4 linked regions of the Homo sapiens genome follow. The protein of the gene in region 4 purifies or fractionates together with the protein of the main gene of each other region. This does not show direct contact. Each region holds a gene or a part of one and is shown on either strand. Other genes may lie near its edges.

The links. Proteins that work in one complex are often made in the same cells at the same time.
Region 1: the proteins of CACNG1 (region 4) and GPAT3 purify together in Homo sapiens (affinity purification with mass spectrometry; one large-scale study listed by BioGRID and IntAct). This does not show direct contact.
Region 2: the proteins of CACNG1 (region 4) and XPO4 purify together in Homo sapiens (affinity purification with mass spectrometry; one large-scale study listed by BioGRID and IntAct). This does not show direct contact.
Region 3: the proteins of CACNG1 (region 4) and IGSF3 purify together in Homo sapiens (affinity purification with mass spectrometry; one large-scale study listed by BioGRID and IntAct). This does not show direct contact.

Annotation. Positions count from the first base shown.
Region 1 is NC_000004.12:83,601,147-83,606,752, reverse strand, and holds the end of GPAT3 (glycerol-3-phosphate acyltransferase 3), read right to left. Parts: intron 2,086-5,606; coding exon 1,986-2,085; 3' UTR 878-1,985; downstream 1-877. UniProt on the Homo sapiens protein: Converts glycerol-3-phosphate to 1-acyl-sn-glycerol-3-phosphate (lysophosphatidic acid or LPA) by incorporating an acyl moiety at the sn-1 position of the glycerol backbone.
Region 2 is NC_000013.11:20,794,370-20,799,207, forward strand, and holds part of XPO4 (exportin-4), read right to left. Parts: coding exon 4,796-4,838; intron 2,689-4,795; coding exon 2,395-2,688; intron 1,888-2,394; coding exon 1,707-1,887; intron 1-1,706. UniProt on the Homo sapiens protein: Mediates the nuclear export of proteins (cargos), such as EIF5A, SMAD3 and isoform M2 of PKM (PKM2). In the nucleus binds cooperatively to its cargo and to the GTPase Ran in its active GTP-bound form.
Region 3 is NC_000001.11:116,604,857-116,609,694, reverse strand, and holds part of IGSF3 (immunoglobulin superfamily member 3 isoform 2 precursor), read left to right. Parts: intron 1-1,363; coding exon 1,364-1,753; intron 1,754-3,143; coding exon of another isoform or gene 3,144-3,203; intron 3,204-4,838.
Region 4 is NC_000017.11:67,050,211-67,055,048, reverse strand, and holds part of CACNG1 (voltage-dependent calcium channel gamma-1 subunit), read right to left. Parts: intron 1,054-4,838; coding exon 979-1,053; intron 1-978. UniProt on the Homo sapiens protein: Regulatory subunit of the voltage-gated calcium channel that gives rise to L-type calcium currents in skeletal muscle. Regulates channel inactivation kinetics.

The DNA of each region.
Region 1 (5,606 bases), on a different chromosome or scaffold from region 4:
ATAATATTAGTGAAAGCAAACATAAAAGGAGCTCTAAGGAGCATACACTAAATCTGAGCAATATCAGCTTTCCAAAAACATGGTTTCAACAACATGGCAATTCCTCAAGCAACCTGAAACCTAGTTGTGTAAATCAGTCTTGTAGAAGACAAAAGTTCAGATTGAGACACTATTAGGTTATCTAGTGAATACATGATAGCACTGTTATTTTTACAGTGCTTTTGGAAAGATACACTTGTCTGAGAATTGGGCTAATGAAATAGATTTGTTAATTCAAGCCATAATTAACATAGAATTTACAAAAAAAAAAAGGCACTCCTTTCTCTGAGGAAAAAAATTAAGACAAAATGTCACCCAACATACATATTTGGATTTGCTAATTTTCAGTCAAGACCACTCCTAATAGAGTTTGTGGGGCAAAATTTCACCAAACAACAAAGGGAAAGTGGGGAGAGTGAGAACAGAGAGGTGGATGGCCATGAGAGTAACCTATTTGCAAGTTTTCTTTTGGGATGAAATCCAACTAGCTAGATAGATAAGAAGAGTATATACTGATAGTGCTATGCCAGGCCTACCTAGATAGTTAGATATAATTGCCTTAATTCACCTGCAAAATAACTGTAGTCTGTGACATTGCTCAAGGTGGAGTTCACAGGGCCAGAGTCCAAATGACTAGACTGAAAAAAAGATTTAAGCGGCGGGAGGGGAGGGGGAGAATCAGTGGCTCATGTTCTTGTTTCCCATTTGTTCCAGTCCAATAAAATCTAACTATGTCACTGAAATGAAAAACAAACAACCCTTGTTTGTAATAGGAAAGAATTTAACTTACTCAAAACCAGAAAAGGGGGGAAGGGAAGGGGGAATAATGCAACACACATTTAGAAATATAGAATTTATTTATATTCATAAGACAGTTTCACATTCTGTACATGGTTACCAGAACAGATACAATACTCTCAGTAGTTTACAACGGCATTATATTGCTGTCAAACATTGCTTATGCTGTGTGAGTTGGGGAAAACTTATTTCCCCCTCTAAAAAAAATTAAGGCTCAGTTTCCAAAAGATAATTATATCAGTCATTTTTCTGTTTAAGAGACTGGGAAAATTCGGGAATAAAAAGCACAAAGGGGTGGAGGGTGAGGGGTAGCTCCACACACTCTCATTCATTCATACTGAAGTTACTCAATGTGATTTTTTTTTTTTAAGGCTCCTTCTATCTGAAAATGTGTTTGGTTACAAAAACAAACAAATCAGTAGATGGGAGGGGTACTAGGTACAGATCTACAGCATTCAAACAAGGAAAACTAAGCTCTTTGTTACCAGTTGCTGGTTAAAATGTGGTCTACGAGCTGCCTACATATAAATGCGCACACACATTAACTTTGACTCACTTTTCTTTGGCGAAGCTTACTGAATAGTATTTCTCTTCCAACACACTAATGACACTAATTTACATTTCCTTTTGACTTTCAGAGCAGGTGGCCACAAAGTTGTCCCTTTTCCTAAATACAATCCTCCATTTTTCCTTTCAACCTTGCAGTAGACCATAACCATAATGGTCATCTTGCACTGATGTGTAATCTCACCATTTAAGTGACTGAAGAAAGTGGCAAGGCTAATTACAGAAAAAGAGTTTGGGCATTTTTGGAGAATTACCCTATCGATGAGTTCCAAACACACTTTTCAAGCACTTTTTTCTATACAAATATTTCATTCAGTCCACAGTGATGCCATCATTTTACAAAAGCAGAATCTGTTTTAACTCAGTAAACCACCTTACAATCCATGGGGCTAATGTTACAACAACAACAAAAGCCAAAAAGGGCACCTGTAGGTTCTGCCTCTGGCATAAAGAGGTAGAGACAATCATTCTGTAGAAAAGATTAACAATAATAAAAACAAAACAATAAAACAAAACAAAACAAAAAAAGCCATTCCATTTCTAAGGGCTAGTTCTAGATCTAAAGGCTGTCATCCGTCCTCTTAGCTGAGAGATCCATTGCCCACAATCATCTTGCTGTAATTTTTCTGCTGCTCTTCCTTAAAGATGTCCTTCACCTTTGCTCTCTTTAGTCCTCCATCCCTGCAAACAGAAAGACAAATACATAAAAGATACTTTACAGCGGTGATTTAAAAGAGTTAACTTAATAATTACATGCTGCATGATACCATGACGCTTAGGCAGCTGGGATGAAATAAGGGAAAGAACACTGGATTTGGAAACAGGAAGACCCAGGTTTCAGTTTCTGCCCTACCACTTGCCAAATACACATTACTTTGAGGAAGGAACAATCTCTCTGATGTTTGGTTAAAATAAGTAACAATATCCCCAACTCAGTTTCTTTAGAAGTTAAGGGGTGGTGTATTAAATATTTGGATTGGCCAGGCACAGTGGCTCACATCTGTAATCCCAGCACTTTGGGAGGCCAAGGTGGGTGGATCACCTGAGATCAGGAGTTCGAGACCAGCCTGGCCAACATAGTGAAACCCTGTCTCTACTAAAAATACAAAATTAGCTGGGCATGGTGGTGTATGCCTATAATCCCAGCTACTTGGAAGGCTGAGGCAGGAGAATCGCTTGAACCCGGGAGGTGGAGGTTGCAGTGAGCCGAGATCACGCCATTGCACTCCAGCCTGGGCAACAAGAGCAAAACTTCGTCTCAAAAACAAACAAACAAACAAACAAAAACTGGATTGAAACAAGGATTATTAAAACTAGGATTATTTCTCTATATTATTCCTTAAGGAAAACAAAATACTGGTTTTTCGTCTACCTATGTCTTACTAGAAAACCACAGGAAAATTTAAAATATACACAGAAGAAATGGTAAGGGTACTGTATATGTGTGGGTAAATTTCTTAAAGATAAATGATTATTCAAAAAAGATAAATCATTGTTCAAATATAACCCTATCTATGTTTAACAAGTTATATTTTCTTTTTTTTTTTTTTTTTTTTTTGAGACAGAGTTTTGCTCTTGTTGTCCAGGCTGGAGTGCAATGGCACAATCTTGGCTCACCGCAACCTCCACTTCCCGAGTTCAAGTGATTCTCCTGTCTCAGCCTCCTGAGTAGCTGGGATTACAGGCATGCACCAACAGGCCCGGCTAATTTTGTATTTTTAATAGAGACAGGGTTTTTCCATGTTTGCCAGGCTGGTCTCGAACTCCCAACCCCAGGTGATCTGCCTGCCTCAGCCTCCCAAAGTGCTGGGATTACAGGCGTGAGCCACCGTGCCCGGTCTAACAAGTTGTATTTTCATTCAAAGCACTATATTTCCAGCATTTATAATCATTTATATTCCAAAACAGATTCCGAATAAAATAACAAAATCATAAGTTGCATTCAACCAGAAGTGCCTATGTAAGCAGCATTCCTTCATTCAGAGCCTGTAAATCTTTGAACTCTCTCCAGGGTGCCTGCCTGGGTATAAGAACTCTGCATGCTTTTCCTTCTTTGGACTACACATAAAGAAACAACAAACTGGAGTTGCTGGGAGTAGTTTGGACTATCATAGGTCACTATCTGGCTCCTAATCTAAAGTTTTAGATTTTAACTGCTAGGAGAGCATGGGCTGAGAACTTGCTTACTTTATACTCTGACTGTTTAATTTTAACCCAGTTAAGCATGCATGTTTACCAAATGCTTTCTGATGATGGTGAATGATCGTAGGTTAGCCAGTGAACTCAATGCCATGTGGACAGAACTTGACCTCCACAGAGACACCGGCTTGAGACAAATGCAATGTTCTGGCTTCTAGACTCAAATCTAAGACACAGCAATAAGTCCTCAACTTAAAAACAGACTGTGATCCACAAATCATCCAGTGGGTCAGTTGTGGGAGGTTTTCATGAAACAAGATTATAAATTGTTGTTAGGTCCACAGAATTGTCCACATAAGCCTCTTTTATCCAAATGAGCTTCTTCTATTAACAGCACTTACCTGAATTCTGAATAGTGAGAACTAAGGAAACTAAAGAAATAAGAAAGGCCTTTCTCCTTTCACAAGATCCAAGCCCAAAACAGGCAAAAATGTAAGTCTTGAGCAATCTGACATCATTTTGTACAATTCTCCTTCCCAAGCACCCAGTAAACCTCATGCTGCTCTAAGCACTTAAACTGTGATTTGCCACCCCTTAGAGACTTCAAAATTTTATCCAATTCCCCTTTGCAATGGCAGCAGGTCTTAGTTCTTAAGAGAGGGAGCAGCCATATATAAAAGCCAGTTTAAGATCATAAAATTATATTTTCACTCAATCTATGAAAAAACAATCTAGATATGTTAATTCATAACCAATAGGTACATGACAAATAAATCTAGAAAGGCAATGAGGCCACTTTCTTTTTTTTAAGAGGCTAGGTAATTAAAAGTAATTTTATTATACAATTGCATATGGCCTGAAAAAAGGACACTGGACAATTCTGAGGATCATTTTTGATGGATTTAGTTCAGCCACTCTGATGGAGAGTCTGTACTTGGCTGACTCCCCTAGGTTGTTCTTGTCTCTCAAGGCTTTCTTCCCTTCCTGTGTCTGAGACTACAGACACTGACTTCAGGATAGAAGCAGGAGGGCTGAGTGTCAGGTAAGATAAAGAGTGAGTAAAGAGTTTTAAATAAGGAAAAGGAACCCAGTTGCACGTATGACCATGGGTTATAGGACATCTGTGGACCAAGGTCGTTTTATATAGTTTTGTGATGCTATGATTCTGTCATTTAGTTTAACATATTCCAATGTAGACAGTGTAATACAAATGTTTAGTCTTAACCTATGCCTTAGGACTAGTCAGTTTCATACTCCAGGATGTATGGAACTCAAGTCATACACCTTGTTAGTCAAGAACTCTTACTCCAGGGTGGTCAGCTAGCATTTAATCAGAAGGCCGCCTTTCAGAGATGCCACTAATGGCTTCAGCTATCTTTATCTTTATTGCCCATCGATTTCTCAAGCTTTGTTAATTAGCATAACAAATTTTATTTATTTGTTTATTTATTTATTTGAGACAGGGTCTCGCTCTGTCACCCAGGCTGCTGTGCAGTGGCACGATCTCAGCTAACTGCAGCCTCGACCTCCTAGGTTCAAGGATTCTCAGGCCTCAGCCTCCCGAGTAGCTGGGACTACAGGTGTGCGCCATGGCGCCCAGCTAATTTTTGTATTCTTTTTGTAGAGACAGGGTTTCGCCATGTTGCCCAGGCTGGTCTCGAACTCTTAAACTCAGGTGATCTACCTGCCTCAGCCTCCCAAAGTGCTGGGATTACAGGCATGAGCCACTGCACCAGGTCCTTGCATAACAAATTTTAGAAATGAGTTTTCACTGTAGAAATTAGTGGTTTGTTAATTTGCATAATGGATATCAGAAACTGGTTTACCTGGATGCAATTAGTTGTATTCACGCTATGTGAATGGATAAATATTTTAGTGTTATTCCCCACCCTTGCATAATGGAGTACAGTAAGTCCTCCCTGAACATTGTTGATAGGTTCTTAGAAACTGCAACTTTAAACAAAATGATGCATAAAAAACTCAATATTTTTTCTCATCAACATTATAAAGAAACAACATTGAACAAAATGATGTTATTTATTCAAGAACCTACTATAAAGTCA
Region 2 (4,838 bases), on a different chromosome or scaffold from region 4:
AATTGAAACAATGAGCTGATTTATGATACACAGAGTAATCATGACAGTAAATCATCTAAACATATACATGTTTTAGCTCTGGGTCCTAACATTTAGTTACAGATTCCTCTGGGGACAAGATTCTTAACCTGGGTTCCTGACACACCTGGAAAATGTATAGAAGAGTTTCCAGGAGTCCATGAACCAACTAATACTGTATTAGTAAGAGGTTAAGAATGCTGGGCACAGTGGCTCACACCTGTAATCCCAGCACTCTGGGAGGTTAAGGTGGGAGAATAGTTTAAGCCTGAGGTTGAGGCTGCACAGAGCTGTGACCATGCGACTGCACTCTAGCCTGGATGACAGAGGGAGACCCTGCCTCTCAAACAACAACAAGGAAAGAAAGAAAAAGTTAAGAACTCCTGGATTAAGCAGAACTGACCTGAAGAAAGTTAGAAAACTTGGGTGAAAGGCTGGGCCTAAAAACAGACCAGAAAGAATTCACTGAGGAAAAGTGAATTTGTACAGTGCTTTTCAGACTATCTCACCTTGGTACCCCTAGTTAACTGCAAAAAAAATAAAGAGTAAACCTTCTACACTGTGAAGTTGATGGTACCTAGCTCAGGGCAGATATTGGAAAAACCGTTGCCCAAGAATTTAAAAAAAAAAAAAAAAGACATGGTCCAGTGAATAAGGAATACGAAAAAATTAAGGAAACAGAACAATCTCAAGGATTGGGATAAATAAGTCAAGTGGATATTATAGCACCCAACTTAGAAAGAGAATCTTACAAGGAAGAAGCCAAAAATGTCCACTACCACACGTGTCTGCACAACATATAATAGGAGAGGCTAGATATGATTCATTTTTCTGTCATGAAACAGGATCCATTTTGTTTGAAGTCAAGGTTGGCAGTGAGATAGGAGGGGAGTGAACTCTACAGCACTGAAAACTATACACATATATGAGGTTTAAATTACTGATCAGGTTCTTGCCTGTAACAGCAACTATCTTTTACCTACTGATTGTCAGACACAATGCTAGGCACCAAAGACACTTTACAGCTGATCCTTCAAACACACTGAAAGGTATTTATTATCATACCCATTTGACCAGCTAGTAAAGACACAGGTAGGCTAATCAACTCCCCTCACATCATACTGTAGGTGAGACACTAGGCTAGGTCTTCAAAGTGTGGGCTGTTAACTCCAGAGAGAGTGCTTCCTACACCAACAGGGCTTTCCAAGCCACACTCTGGAAAGTGCTAGGGTTTCTGGGGTGGCCACCGTGAGGAACATGGAGAAGTGATTAGTCAGGAAGTGTAACTCTGAAGAGACTGGCATCTGGAGTCACAGGCTGGGATTTGAATCCCAGTCCTGGCTAAGTATCTGTGGCCAAGTGACTTAAGCTCTCTGTGCTTCTGTTTCCTCATCTATAAAGTGAGAATAACAATGGGATTGACTTCATACCATTGTGAGAGGTAAGAACAGTGCATGGCATTTAGTAAGATCTCAATGAATGAGAGATACTATTTCTATTATTCTTACAAGAGGAAAGGCAAGCAGGAGGGCCACTGGTCCTCACCCTCACTTTGACCACAAAGATCTTCTTTCATTTATTCCATAAATTGAATTTCCTCATGAGATGTCTCTTACAGAAAACAATCCTTTGATTTAATAAAAAGGAGGATAACAACAAAGTTTAAAAACCATCACGTTACATTTTACCTGTATCACTGAAATCTATGAATTCTTTTGACAGCAGGTTAGTAAGAAGTTCCATAATGAGAAGCAGGTCTTGGTATTGCTCTTCTTCTGCTGTAACATCTATTCTTTGCCGCCCTAAATTATTCTTAGAATACACTTGCAACAAAGTAAGGCAGGCTTCATATAAGTTCATAGCTTTGGACTGAAAAAAAAAAAAATGCACAAATTATGCTACTTGGTACACTGACATTAAAAAAATTTTAAAATATAATCTATATAAATTAACTCCGAATTCCAACAGTAGCAATAATTCTTGCTTTAAACTACATTAAAACAATAATTTCTAGAAAGCATATATTAAGAGTATATTTTTTTTAATTTTACCCCTTTTCTAACAAAATTTTAGGACAAGAATTTATATTCAGGTGCAGCAAACCACCATGGCATACATATACCTATGTAACAAATCTGAACGTTCTGTATATGTATCCTGTTTCCTTTTAGAAGAAATTAAAAAAAAAATTTACATTCATTCAACATGACTTTCTCTAAATTATAAGTTCTTTTCAAAAATCTTTTTTAAAAATCTTTTGAAGGAATAAAAATATTATTTAAGATAATACTAATCAAATTTTAAGCAAAGATCTATTATTTTATTACAGCTTCAAAGAGTTTTAATCCTGAGGGGATAAAATTAGAAAGTGCTTACCTCTCCAAGATAGCATATCTGTTTATGTGCAACTTCAACAAAAACTTCTATAATGAGATTGACAGTCTCTGGGGTATTCTTGTAAACTTCCATCAATCCAATGCAATTGGTAAGGAAGTCCATTAAAAAATTAAACAGGATTGCTACGTTGTCAATCTGGGTAGCCTCAGCAATGCCACACAGGGCCTCTAGTGTGGCAGTGATTTCCTGCTTGACTTCCTCTTGCTGACACATCTGCTGGAAGTTTTCTTGGTTTATCACTCTTAAGAATCGCTGCTGAAGTGGCTGAAGAACCTATAAAAATAAACCAGGAATTTTCTTAAAGCTCAGTTCTCATGCTTTATTTCCTCTGCTTGGATACATATTCACTTTCCAAAACATTTCTAATTGTTGGAGGCAGGACAAGCACATAACAAAGAATATCTAAACCAGACTTTACACTCCCCATTTTGAGGGTCATCCTAACTTTCCGCTCATGTAAAGCCAGAACACCCAAAGCATGGGACATAACTGTCTCCCTGCCATTCAAAGAATTCTGCCATTTCCCTCCATCTCTTTCCAAGTAATGAGTCAAAAAGGAAAAAAAACTTTGTTTACAAAATCAGACAGTAAGCCACATTTGGCCCATGGGCTGCAGCTTGCCGACCTCTACAGAGTGAAGCCCAATTCAAAGTTCTTGTCTGTTTTTTTCCTTTTTCCTTTACCTAATTCCTCTTGGCACAGAACGTAACTTCAGATAATCAGTCCTGCCCTGTATATAAGAGTACTCATATTCAAGAGGACAGTATCTTAATTCGACTTTAAGTTGTCCATATGATAATACAATTGTTTAAAATAAAAATACTTAGTCAGTCTGGTTTCCCCTGGATTTGAAGTCACAAACAACTGCCTAATTCCATTACTGTGCCCCTTCTCAAACACTAAGGGCCCTCTAGACAAGGACTGCAGGCTGGCAACCTACACACACTGGCAACTCTTGGCCCTTGATTTAAAGCCTATTAAATAATGTGCCCATGGTTGTTGTTATGGGTCAAACTGTGTTCCTCAAAAACTCATATGTGGAAATCCAAACCCCAGGATATGAACTTATTTGATAATAGAGTTGGCCGGATGCAGTGGCTCACACCTGTAATCCCAACGTTTTGGAAGGCTGAGGTGGGCGGATCACTTGAGGTCAGGAGACCAGCCTGGCCAACATGGCAAAACCCCGTCTCTACTAAAAATACAAAAATTAGCCAGGCATGGTGGTGCGCACCTGTAATCCCACCTACTTAGGAGGCTGAGACAGGAGAGTCGCTTGACCCAGGAGGTGGAGGTTGCAGTGAGCCAAGATCACACCACTGCACTCCAGCCTGAGTGACAGAGCAAGACTCCGTCTCAAAAAAAAAGAAAATAGGGTTGTCATAGATGTAATTAGTTCAGATGAGGTCATACCGGAATAGGGTGGGCCCCTAGTTCAATATAACTGATATAGAAAGGGGAAGTGTGGATGCAGACACACACAGGGGGAGCATGTGAAGATGAAGGCAGGGATCAGGGTGATGCGTTTACAAATCAAGGAATGCCAAAGACTGCCAGCAAGCTACCAGAGGCTACAGATTTTCCCTCATAGCCTTCAGAAAGAACAAATCCCATGGACACCTTATAGCTTGGACTTCTAGCCTCCAGAAGTAGGAGAAAACAAATTTCTGTTGTGGTATTTTGTTAGAGCAGCCCTAGGAAATGAATATCATGGTTAATCTGCATCTTATTCAAGACAGGAGAATATTTCCCTGATCCCTAATGAAAATTTAATAAGCCAGTCCATGCTCTCGACTGAGTTGTGAAAAATGTGCCTAAAATGCAGAACACTTGATAATATTCAATGTCATCACACACAGGCAGGTACAGAAAAATTATAAGACAACATTTGTAAAATAAGAAGCTTCAACCCATTCATTAGGAGAAAAAATATCAGAAAAGCTATGACTGGGCCGGGCACAGTGGCTGGTCACATCTGTAATCCCAGCACTTTGGGAGGCCAAGGCGGGCAGATTGCTTGAGGCCAGGAGTTCGAGACCAGCCTGGCCAACATGGCAAAAGCCCGTCTCTACTAAAAAAAACAAAAATTAGCTGGGTATGGTGGCATGAGTCTGTAGTCCCAGCCACTTGGGAGGCTGAGGCAGGAGAATCGCTTGAACCTGGGAGGTAGAGGCTGCAATGAGCTGAGACTGCACCACTGTACTCCAGCCTGGGCAACAGAGTAAGACCCTATCTCAGAAAAAAAAAAAAAAGAAAGAAAGAAAGAAAGAAAAGCTATGACTGATACATTTATGTCTCCAGAGACTCTTACGGCAACGCATAGATAAAGGAACTACAGAGTTACACAAAAGGGTGCAATCAAAATAGACAGCACTGTTACCTCTGTCCAATACTGCTGTTTGGTTTCTGTGTCCATATGTGCA
Region 3 (4,838 bases), on a different chromosome or scaffold from region 4:
CAGAGCTAATGAATCTACATGGAATTCAAACGTCTCTGCCATGGGATTTTTTCCACCTCGGTGTTCTTTTTAGAGGAACAGAGCTAGAACTGGGCAGTGGTCACAGCTCCAGTCTCTAACCCTTAACTCCGTTTTCTTCCCCCTGACTTCTGCCGTGGGTGCCTATGAGATACGATAGCTGTCTAATGAGATTAATAGCCACTGTACACTGGTACACAGGTTGTGATGATGCTGTTAGTGGTAATGAGCCCCTCTTTGGTCACCCCCTCATGCCTGGTTAAGCACCCAACTCAACAAAAATTAGCTGGATATGGTGGCTACTCCGGAGGCTGAGGTGGGAGGATGGCTGGAGCCTGGGAAGTCGAGGCTGCAGTGAGCCACGATCATGCCACTACACTCCAGCCTGGGCAACAGAACGAGACCCTGTCACAGTAAATAAGTAAATAAATAAAAATTAAAAAAACACCTAGATCTTAGGAGGCTGCTTGGGTTTAGTAATCATTTCAGAGGCTGTCTGGCTTTCAGCAGAAGTAGGTACTTTTCCTACTAAAGTACCTACTAAGTACTTACTCAGTGGGAAAGTACCTACTAAGGTTTAACCAGGCGTGAGTACTTAGTAGGTACTTTCCCACTAAAGTAGGTACTTTCCTACTAAAGTAAGTACTTAGTAGGTACTTCACTGGGAAAGTACCTACTTCCATTGAAATCTGACTAGAGATTTGATCTGACAGGTGGTAAACTAGTGAACAGACATTAGTTTTTATTTTTTCTATGTAATTCTGTTAGGGTTTGTCATACCTACATCTTATTTCTAGTATTCACATGGCGGGGGGTAGAGAGGGAATTTTAATATAGTCATCTTTGAGCATTTGTTAGGATTGGGCCAGCACCTAGGCCACTCTGTAATTTTTTCCCACAGACCTCAGTGGGGTAAGTCTTACAATATCTGCTGAAAATGTTTATAATGCTGTTGCTTAAATAGAGTTCTGGGTGCATATATCAAGGCTAGATATTTGTAATCTACCATTTGAGTGATATTAGTAGCTTCTCACTGACCTGGGGGTCTCATCTAAGACATCTAAAGCTTCAGACTGAGCCCCATTGGTCTTAACTGGGGTAACAGTTTGCTTAGACCGTCTGGGCTGAAGTAGTTTTGAATTCTCTCTGTGATATTCAGGCGTTTCTCTGGACCTTAGATAACCTGGGTCTGAGTTGGATTTTACTCTCAAGCTAAGTGCTGTGGTCCTCCCCGCAGTTAGTATTGTAAAGAAGAGGAAGGATAGTGGGAATGTGCTAATGTGGTTTAGTTGGCTGGGGCCCTCATTCACCCAGGATGTGTCTCTTTTCTTACTTGTTCTCTCAGACAAAGAATTCACTGTTCGGCTGGAGACAGAGAAGCGGCTGCACACGGTGGGCGAGCCGGTGGAGTTCAGATGCATCCTGGAGGCTCAGAATGTTCCCGACCGTTACTTTGCTGTCTCCTGGGCCTTCAACAGCTCGCTCATCGCCACCATGGGTCCTAACGCTGTGCCTGTCCTCAACAGCGAATTTGCTCACCGGGAAGCCAGGGGACAGCTTAAGGTGGCCAAAGAGAGCGACAGTGTCTTTGTGCTGAAGATCTACCACCTCCGCCAGGAAGATAGCGGGAAATACAACTGCCGGGTGACTGAGCGAGAGAAAACCGTGACCGGGGAATTCATTGATAAGGAGAGCAAGCGTCCCAAGAACATCCCCATCATAGTCCTCCCCCTCAGTAAGTAGAGAGATGTGCTGCTTTCTTCTCCTTTGGCTCAGCATCATTTAGGAGAGGTAGGGGGAGAGAGAATAGCGTGGTGAAGGTGAGGGGAGGCAGATGGAACCCTCGAGGTTAATGCAGAGCTGGGGGAAAAACCATTGAGCCTCTCTTCCCTGTTGTAGCCCACCTGCATACATGTAGCAGGCTCCCCATAGCAGAGGATCAGGATCAGGGGTGTCCAGAATCAGGGCAGTCTAGGGCTGGGCATAGGCCTATCTGATTGCTAGCAGCCCTGTGCATACACAAGCAGTGCCAGCTCAGCTTGGAGGGAAACCAGGAATCCCAGAAAGCTGTTTGCTCTTGTGTGGGAATCAAGTCCCAGAAGAAGTGGGTAGATGCCTGCCTTGAAATCTCACTTAAGGAGAGTTGGTCTTTTATGGGAGGATTTTAAATCATAAAGTGCATTATTAAGGATTTGCCATCTGGGTTTTTCAGGTATAAAGGCTGGCATTTCCCTAAATGGCTTTTCCCTGTTGAAATTGTGTTTCTAAAAGTCGGTGGATGGGACCTCTCACATCTTCCTGGAGCATAGCCTTTTAAGCTTAGCTGATTTCTGAGGCTGCCTCAGTGGGCTCCCCAGCCTTCATGTAGACTGGCCTTGTGTGGGTGGGTAGTGGCCATTGCTAGGGATTCCAGAAACTACTGGTGTTTGCTTGTGTTGTGTTTAAACATTCATAGTATCAAGATATTCTTATTAATCTCATTCTCCCATAGTTCTGTTTTTAGTAAAGAGAATAAAAACCTATAATGCTCTGATTTTAAACAAGTGGTAAAGTTTTAAGACTAACCTTTAACCTTGTCTCAGCTGCTCAAACTATTCTTTCTCTGAGCCTTGTAATAATTTCCTTTACTTTTTATTTATATGTTTTAATATTTAAAATATTTCTCTTCAAGTGTGATATTTCTCTTCAAGTAGCCACAGCGGTCCTCTTGTCAGTCTTTTCTTCTTTTCTCATCAACTGGATTATTTTCTTTTTATGCTTATTATTATTTTGTTAAAAACCATGCACACACATACCTAATTATCTTGAAATTCTTTTGTTTCTTAGCTTTTTCCGCCCTGCAATGCCTAGCATGGTGCTTTGCATAGAGTAGGTGCTCGCTGAATACTGTACAACTGAAATTATTGAATTGAATGCCCACTGTCTTTACTATTTTCCTGTCAGTCTGTGCTTGCCTTAACCACGGACTCTACTTTTAAATCTGCAACTAATTCCTCATTGTTTTCTAAGGATCAAGTGAAGGGCAGCCACGCTGTTTACTTCCTATATTTTTTGTACTAAGATTTCCCCCAACCCCTTCTGAGAACTTGTTTGATGATCTGTGGCCTGCTATATTGCTTTTCCAGCAGATAACTGGGTAGTTAAAGTCCCCCAGCACCACCAGCTCCTGTCCCAAGGCCACTTGGGTAAGTCTGCCGAAGAACAACAACAATCACATCGGTAATGGTGACAATGCCTTGGATTTTAATGGCGCTTTTCCTCCTAAGAGACCAAAGTGCTTCTGCATATATCATCTCCTTCTCCGCTCCCACCTCTCAAATCCTCGTAGAGGCCAATATGATATCCATCTAATGAATGAAGAAATCAGAGCACCACACAGGAAGTGACAGAGCTGATTGTTCAGTTAGTGGTTGAGCTTGCATTGCATTAGGAAATATTTGCTTCTAACTCCACACCCACCGCCCTGCGCTTAGCCTGTGCTACACCGTCAACTTCCTGATTTGAAATTTCATTTGTGAATGTGTACTCAGATTTTTATTAGTTCTGTCCTAGTTTTCACTTAATCCAGAGAGTTTAAAATTGTCGGCTGCCTTTTCTCAGGCCTGGAAATTCTTGTAAATAGTGTTAGTGGGCAGTGAGGCACCAGGTCTGTAGTTGCCTTTGCCTCAGCTGCTATAATAAAATAGCATTTCTTCTTGTAGCCCCACATTCTAACTATGTGGGTTTCCAGGCTTGCTCAAGCAACAGACACCACCAAACAGTAGCCCTTTCAATAAATGAGCCAGGACTTGGATAAGCGTCCACTGGGATGACAGTAGGGGATGAGAGTGAGGTCCTGCAAGTCATTCTTCTGCTTAATACAAGTGAAAGGATTTTCTTCCTTGATGCTGCAGTTGCCCTTTTAATCCCTTATTTTGAATTGATAACAGTGGGGATGAGTCTTTAATCTAAAGAGGAATATTGTTGTTATTAATGATGATGAAAAATAAGTACCTCATCTGATCCTCTCAATGTCATGCCCTAAGAAGTAGGCACTATTAGTATCTCCATTTTGCACATGAGAAATTGGAGCTTTGGTAGGTTAAGGAAGAACCACAGGATTACAGAGTTAGGAAGTCTCCAAATCCATCCCCTTAACCATTAGTGCTATAGATGGTGACTGTTCAGGAGCCTGATCATCTCTATGAATCATCCTGGTATGAGTCCTGGGGGAGGTTGCCCTCCTAGGAAAATTGCTATTCCCTGCCCCATCCAGACCTTTTATTTTTCACATAAAACAAGCAAATCCAGAATGGATAGCAGGCATCCTCACTATAATAAGAGCTACATGTGGAGGCTCAGTGCTCGTCTTTGTTTCTGCTTGTTGGGGAAATAAAGGAGAGAAAAGATTTGATTCAAATGCATTGTTATGTGTATGTGTGTGTTTTCTCTTGGTAATTGGGTGTGCCTCTTAAAATCTGGGATTTGATTTAATTAATTGGTTTAAAATTATTGCATGTATTTAATGTGGGTGGTACCCAAAAATTGGAGCCAAATTAGTTACTTTGTGTTCTTTAATACTTACAGACCTTCTGAACTCAATATAGATAATTATACAAAATACTACATGTATAATTAAAACATATTAGGCTATCTGTGATGTTTATAAAAACAAAGAGTTATGTGGAATAGTAAAATTAATCATGATCATGATGACCAGTTTTTGAAAACCTACTATGTGTTAGGTGAATCTATATGCATCATCTCATTTACTTTTTAATATTTAAAGAATTCTACAGTTAAAGGTGGCTCTCTACCTGTCTTACAGAAGAAGAGGCTGA
Region 4 (4,838 bases):
GGCTCGTTAGGGACCACACCATGCACCACAGTGTGTGTGTCAGTGTCTGTGTGTGTCATTGTGTGTGTGTCAAGTGTGTGTCTCTGTGTCTGTCTTGTGTGTGTCATTGTATGTGTGTATCTGTGTGTGTGTCAGTGTCTGTGTGTGTCATTGTGTGTCATGCATATGTGTCAGTGTGTGTCTCTGTGTCTGTCATTGTACGTGTGTGTCAGTGTGTGTCTCTGTGTCTGTGTCATTGTACGTGTGTGTCAGTGTGTGTCTGTGTGTGTCACTGTGTGTCATTTTGTGTGTCATCATGCATGTGTATCAGTGTGTGTCTGTGTCACTGTGTGTCATTTTGTGTGTCATCATGCGTGTGTGTCAGTGTCTCTGTGCGTCTGTGTCTTGTGTGTGTCGTGTGTGTGTATCTGTGTTGTGTGTGTCTGTGTGTGTCAGTGTGTGTCTGTGTGTCTGCCCACTCACCCTGTGTGCAGCTGTCTGGGCGCAGGCAGGCACGGGTCTGTACTCCCGACAATGGGTGTGCGTCTGAGCTCTGCGGATCCTGAAAAGCTCCCAGAGCCCACCGCACCCTCCTGGTACTCAGGGAGGGATTTCTAGGCCAGGGAGGGACTCAGACTGTCCCTGCAGACTCTAACTATCACATGCCACCAAGAGCCACCACGGGGCTTCTGAGCATTTGTTCCACATCCACACCTCCCGTCACAACAGCTGCCCTTGTGTAGGGGCCTACCAGGAGGTGCTGCTTCTGCAAACGCTCCCTGGCCCCGAGGTGTGGAAGCTCCGGGCCCTGGAGATGGAAGGCGGCTGCCTGGGGCCTCCGGAGCGGGGAGCTGACAAGGCTGTTGTTCAAATGCACCACAGGCTTCTTCTCATCAGGCGTGAGGAAGTCAGTGCTTTTGCCAATGACTTTCTGGCCCAGTGGTGCACAACACAGAAGTCCCCTCTTGTCACCCCAGACCCCTTTCCACCCAGGCTCACCCTTCTGAGTGGTGAATTCGAAGATCTCCGAGCTCTCGCCGGGGTTAAAATGCCTGAAGTAGGAACAGTTCTTCTCTGCAAAGGAGGAGACAGACTGTGAGTTGAGGGGAGCAACCCGTAGCAAGGACAGAGGCCTGGCAGAGAGCGTGGTGTCATTCTGCTCGGCATGCAGGGGGCTCTGGCAGCCTCTCTTCTCCCCAGATCCTTAATCTGGGCTGAAACATCTGTCTTTGACCCTTAGAACAACATCTCAGTGGGATAATGAGGTTGCCTGCAGGGCTGGGAGGTCTTCAGGGAGCTGAGGCTGGATGAGTCTGCAGGGCAGACGGCCTGTGGGTTCTGCACCCCATTAGGCAGACAGGGTAACCGAGGCCCAGGCTCAAGCCATTTTTCAGGGTGTGCAGGGTGCACAATCAACAAAGAACCAAACAGCAGTCTCTGTTGGGGCCGATTCTGCCCCCCCAGGGGACACTTGGCGATGCCTGGGGTTATGGTGGTGGTGAGAGGGGTACACCTGGCACCCAGCCGGTAGAGGCCACAGACGTTGCTGAACATCCCAAGACACACAGGACAGGTCCTCCCAACATGGAATGATCCAGGCCAAAATATCAAGAGTGTCAAGGTTGAGAAACCCTGGATCAACCCCAAACCTGGGACTGTGTTTCTCATCAGAATCCAGGCACACCCTGGTTCATTGGTGGGACCTGGGAAACAGTGTTTTTCAAAAGCTTTCTGGGAGAGCCTGATGTGCAGCCAGGATGGGAACCCTGCTCCAGGCCCCTTAAAATGCCCTGCAAAGGGCTTTTTCCGAGTGGCCATTGGGATGGCCTGGATGCAGATGGAACCCCTACGAGGGCTGAATGTGACCATCATGTGGTTTCACTGGGTCCCTGGTCTTTGCGAGACAGCCCAGATGAGACCTGCCCCCACAAAGCCGCTTGGCCCACCTGATAATTGTCATAAAAGCTATGGAAAGTCTGTGGGCAGTAGGAACGCAAATCTGAATTTGATGAGGGAGAGGGGAGGGGCTCAGCACAAGGAAATTCATGCTGATTTAAAATATAATTTCATTTCCATTTTTCTCTTTCAGTCTCTCTCTCATAGCTAGGTATACTATAAAATCAAAGCACAGGCCGGGCGTGGTGGCTCACACCTGTAATCCCAGCACTTTAGAAGGCTGAGGCAGGAGAATTGCTTCAACCCAGGAGGCAGAGGTTGCAGTGAGCTGAGGTCGTGTCACTGCACTCCAGCCTGGGTGACAGAGTGGGACTCTGTCTCAAAAAAAAAAAAAGCACAGTCTTATTTCTTGCTAAATACGGTTTATCTTCTTTGCTCTTGATTTAGGAAGTGGATGAATGGGTTATTTTATATTATGTTTCCTTCCAAAACTAAATTAGTTTGCTTTTTATTTGTGGAGGCCCTTCATTGATTTCTTTTCCTGTGGATCAGTGACCCTTAAATAGAAAAACATCTCTTTCTCTAGTTGAGATGGTGTCTAGTTTGCCAATTCATTTCTTCACTTCCAGGCTTCATTTAGATGCTCATAAGGCGGTTGATGCCTAGTTCTTTCTGGAAATGTACCTGCAGTGATACCAAGGCTTTTCTTTGGGATGAAGACTTTCTTTAACCGGACCTAAATCATTCTTCTTGCACCTTAAGCCTGTGGTCTCATACCATGCCCCTCCTTCCCCCCAGAGCCAGGGCTGCTGCCTCTCCTGAGGTTGAGGAAGCAAATGACCCCTGGAGATGGGATCTGGTTTAGCAGCAGTACCCATTCCTGGCATAAACAGCCTTCTCTGTGTGCTTCTATATTTAAATCACTTTCCTTTTGAACCGCGTTACCTGGGGTGTCTGACTGCTGGTGGTGATGTCAGAATTGGTGCTCTGCTATTCTCTCTGGGCATCCGGTGCTATTTTAAAGCATAATGCAGATCTCTTCTATTTGTTAGATTATTGGCTGTAGATCTCTCGAATCACTGCTTCAAAATGGCCCATGCTATGTCATAAGTCTCCATGTGTCTCCCTCTGGACAAAGAAACATTTCTGTTTCTGTTTCATTCTTGAAGGGCCAATTTCAGTTGTCAGAATTGACTGAATTCAAGTGTATTTCATGGTCAGCTGCCTCCCTGACTGCTCAAAAGCCATAAGTTAAAATCCTTCCCAGCGGAGGGCCCTGAGATGAGGGCCATGGAGTGCCTTGCTGGGGGCACAGCTGTTTGCACCTGGTGGGTTGCTGAGGTGACTCTCACACAGGTAGCATTTGGCTCACCAAATCCCCACCAGATAAACGCCAGGCTCCGCCTGGCTGCTGGCTGCTTGGATAGAAATGATCTTAACTCAGACACAGGGGTAGGCTACGTGTCTGCAGGAGCCAGGTTGTGAGCTTCTGGGGGGATGCTTTTCTTTTGGTGGTCCAGGTACAGTGTTCCTCCTCCCTCTTCTCCATTAAGTGTCCTCAAATGGAGGGAGGGGGCCTCCAGTGGGTAGGATTCCTTCTCAGGGTAACAGGAAGCCTCAGCTTCACTCTTACATGGCTGAACTGGGGGCCTGAGGACTGATGGGCTGACCTCTCCCCTTTCTTGGGCTTAGCATGTGAAAAAGACCGGTGTCTCCTGCCCTGAACCTGAGAGAAACATCCACTCCTGGGCTATGTGGCTGCCCATTGGAGACCATAAACCCTTTCATGGTCTCTAATGGCCCCTGTAGGGGTGGGGGCACGTCAGACCCAGGCCTCATTTAGGACAAATCAGGCCAGGCATCTGCCCATGTTACTCAAGAGGGTGCAGGGTCCTGTTCAGATGGACAGACCCTACTATGAGCCCCTTCCCTCCCTGCCCTGTTCCTGGGTCTAGGTGGATATTATTTGGGAAACTGAGCATCCAGGGCAACGTAAAGAGGAAGGACATCCGAGGTGGACCCATCTTAGTCATGGGTCAAGAGGAGAGGGACCGTGACGGTCCTGTGCAGACTCTCAGTCTTCCTGCCTCTGCCTCTGGGATGCCCCTCTCTGCCCCGCTGCCCTGGCTTCCATCACACTTACACAAAGCTCAGGGATTGCAGCTTTGCTTCCGACTAAGTCAGCAAAGATTCCAATGCCAGGATGATGATCTGGGGTGTTAGGAACTCTGAGGTCGTGCCATTCTCCTTTGTCTCTGCAGATGGCTTATGCTGATTTTAATCTCCTTATTTCTGTAAGACTCAGCGGTTTAAAAATATTAAATGGGTTATTTATTAAAAATATGGTGAACTCAGCTCTCAGACTTGACTGGGGGATGGAATAGTCTGGCTAACCCAGTGTTCTGGTTAAGGGCATCAGTAACTGTGCAGAACCATGTGTAGTGTGCCAGTTTCAAAGAATTAGAGCAGAAGCCACATTTAGCTCCAAGCTGAACTTGAGTTAATAGGGATCTTTCTTTGATAGTTGGAACAGCTGGCAGGATTAGTGGATGCCTTGGGTTATCACTGAGAATGTATCAGTGTGCCAAGTGACTGTCCATGGAGACTTTCATATATTCAAAGATACTTTGTGGATTTGTCCAAAACCAAAGAAACTGGTACTTTAGGGGTGCAAGGAAGCCTCTAACTTGCATTGATGTCAGTGTTGTTTTTAGCCTTTTGGTAAAAGAAGTTCTATCAGCTCCCAACAGTGGTTTCTCTGGGCTGTGTCTCCTTCCACATCTCTGATTGAAGAATTTTATAAAATGGGCTGGAAATCTCCAAGACCTGACCCTAGAGCTTCAGAGCACTGCTCTTCCATGGGAGAAGCCTGGCTTTGGCCTAGGCCTCTGGCATGGACTTCTGTGGGTGGTGAAGTGAGCCCATGAAATTCCTGGGGTCAGTAGTATCATGCTCTTTTATAC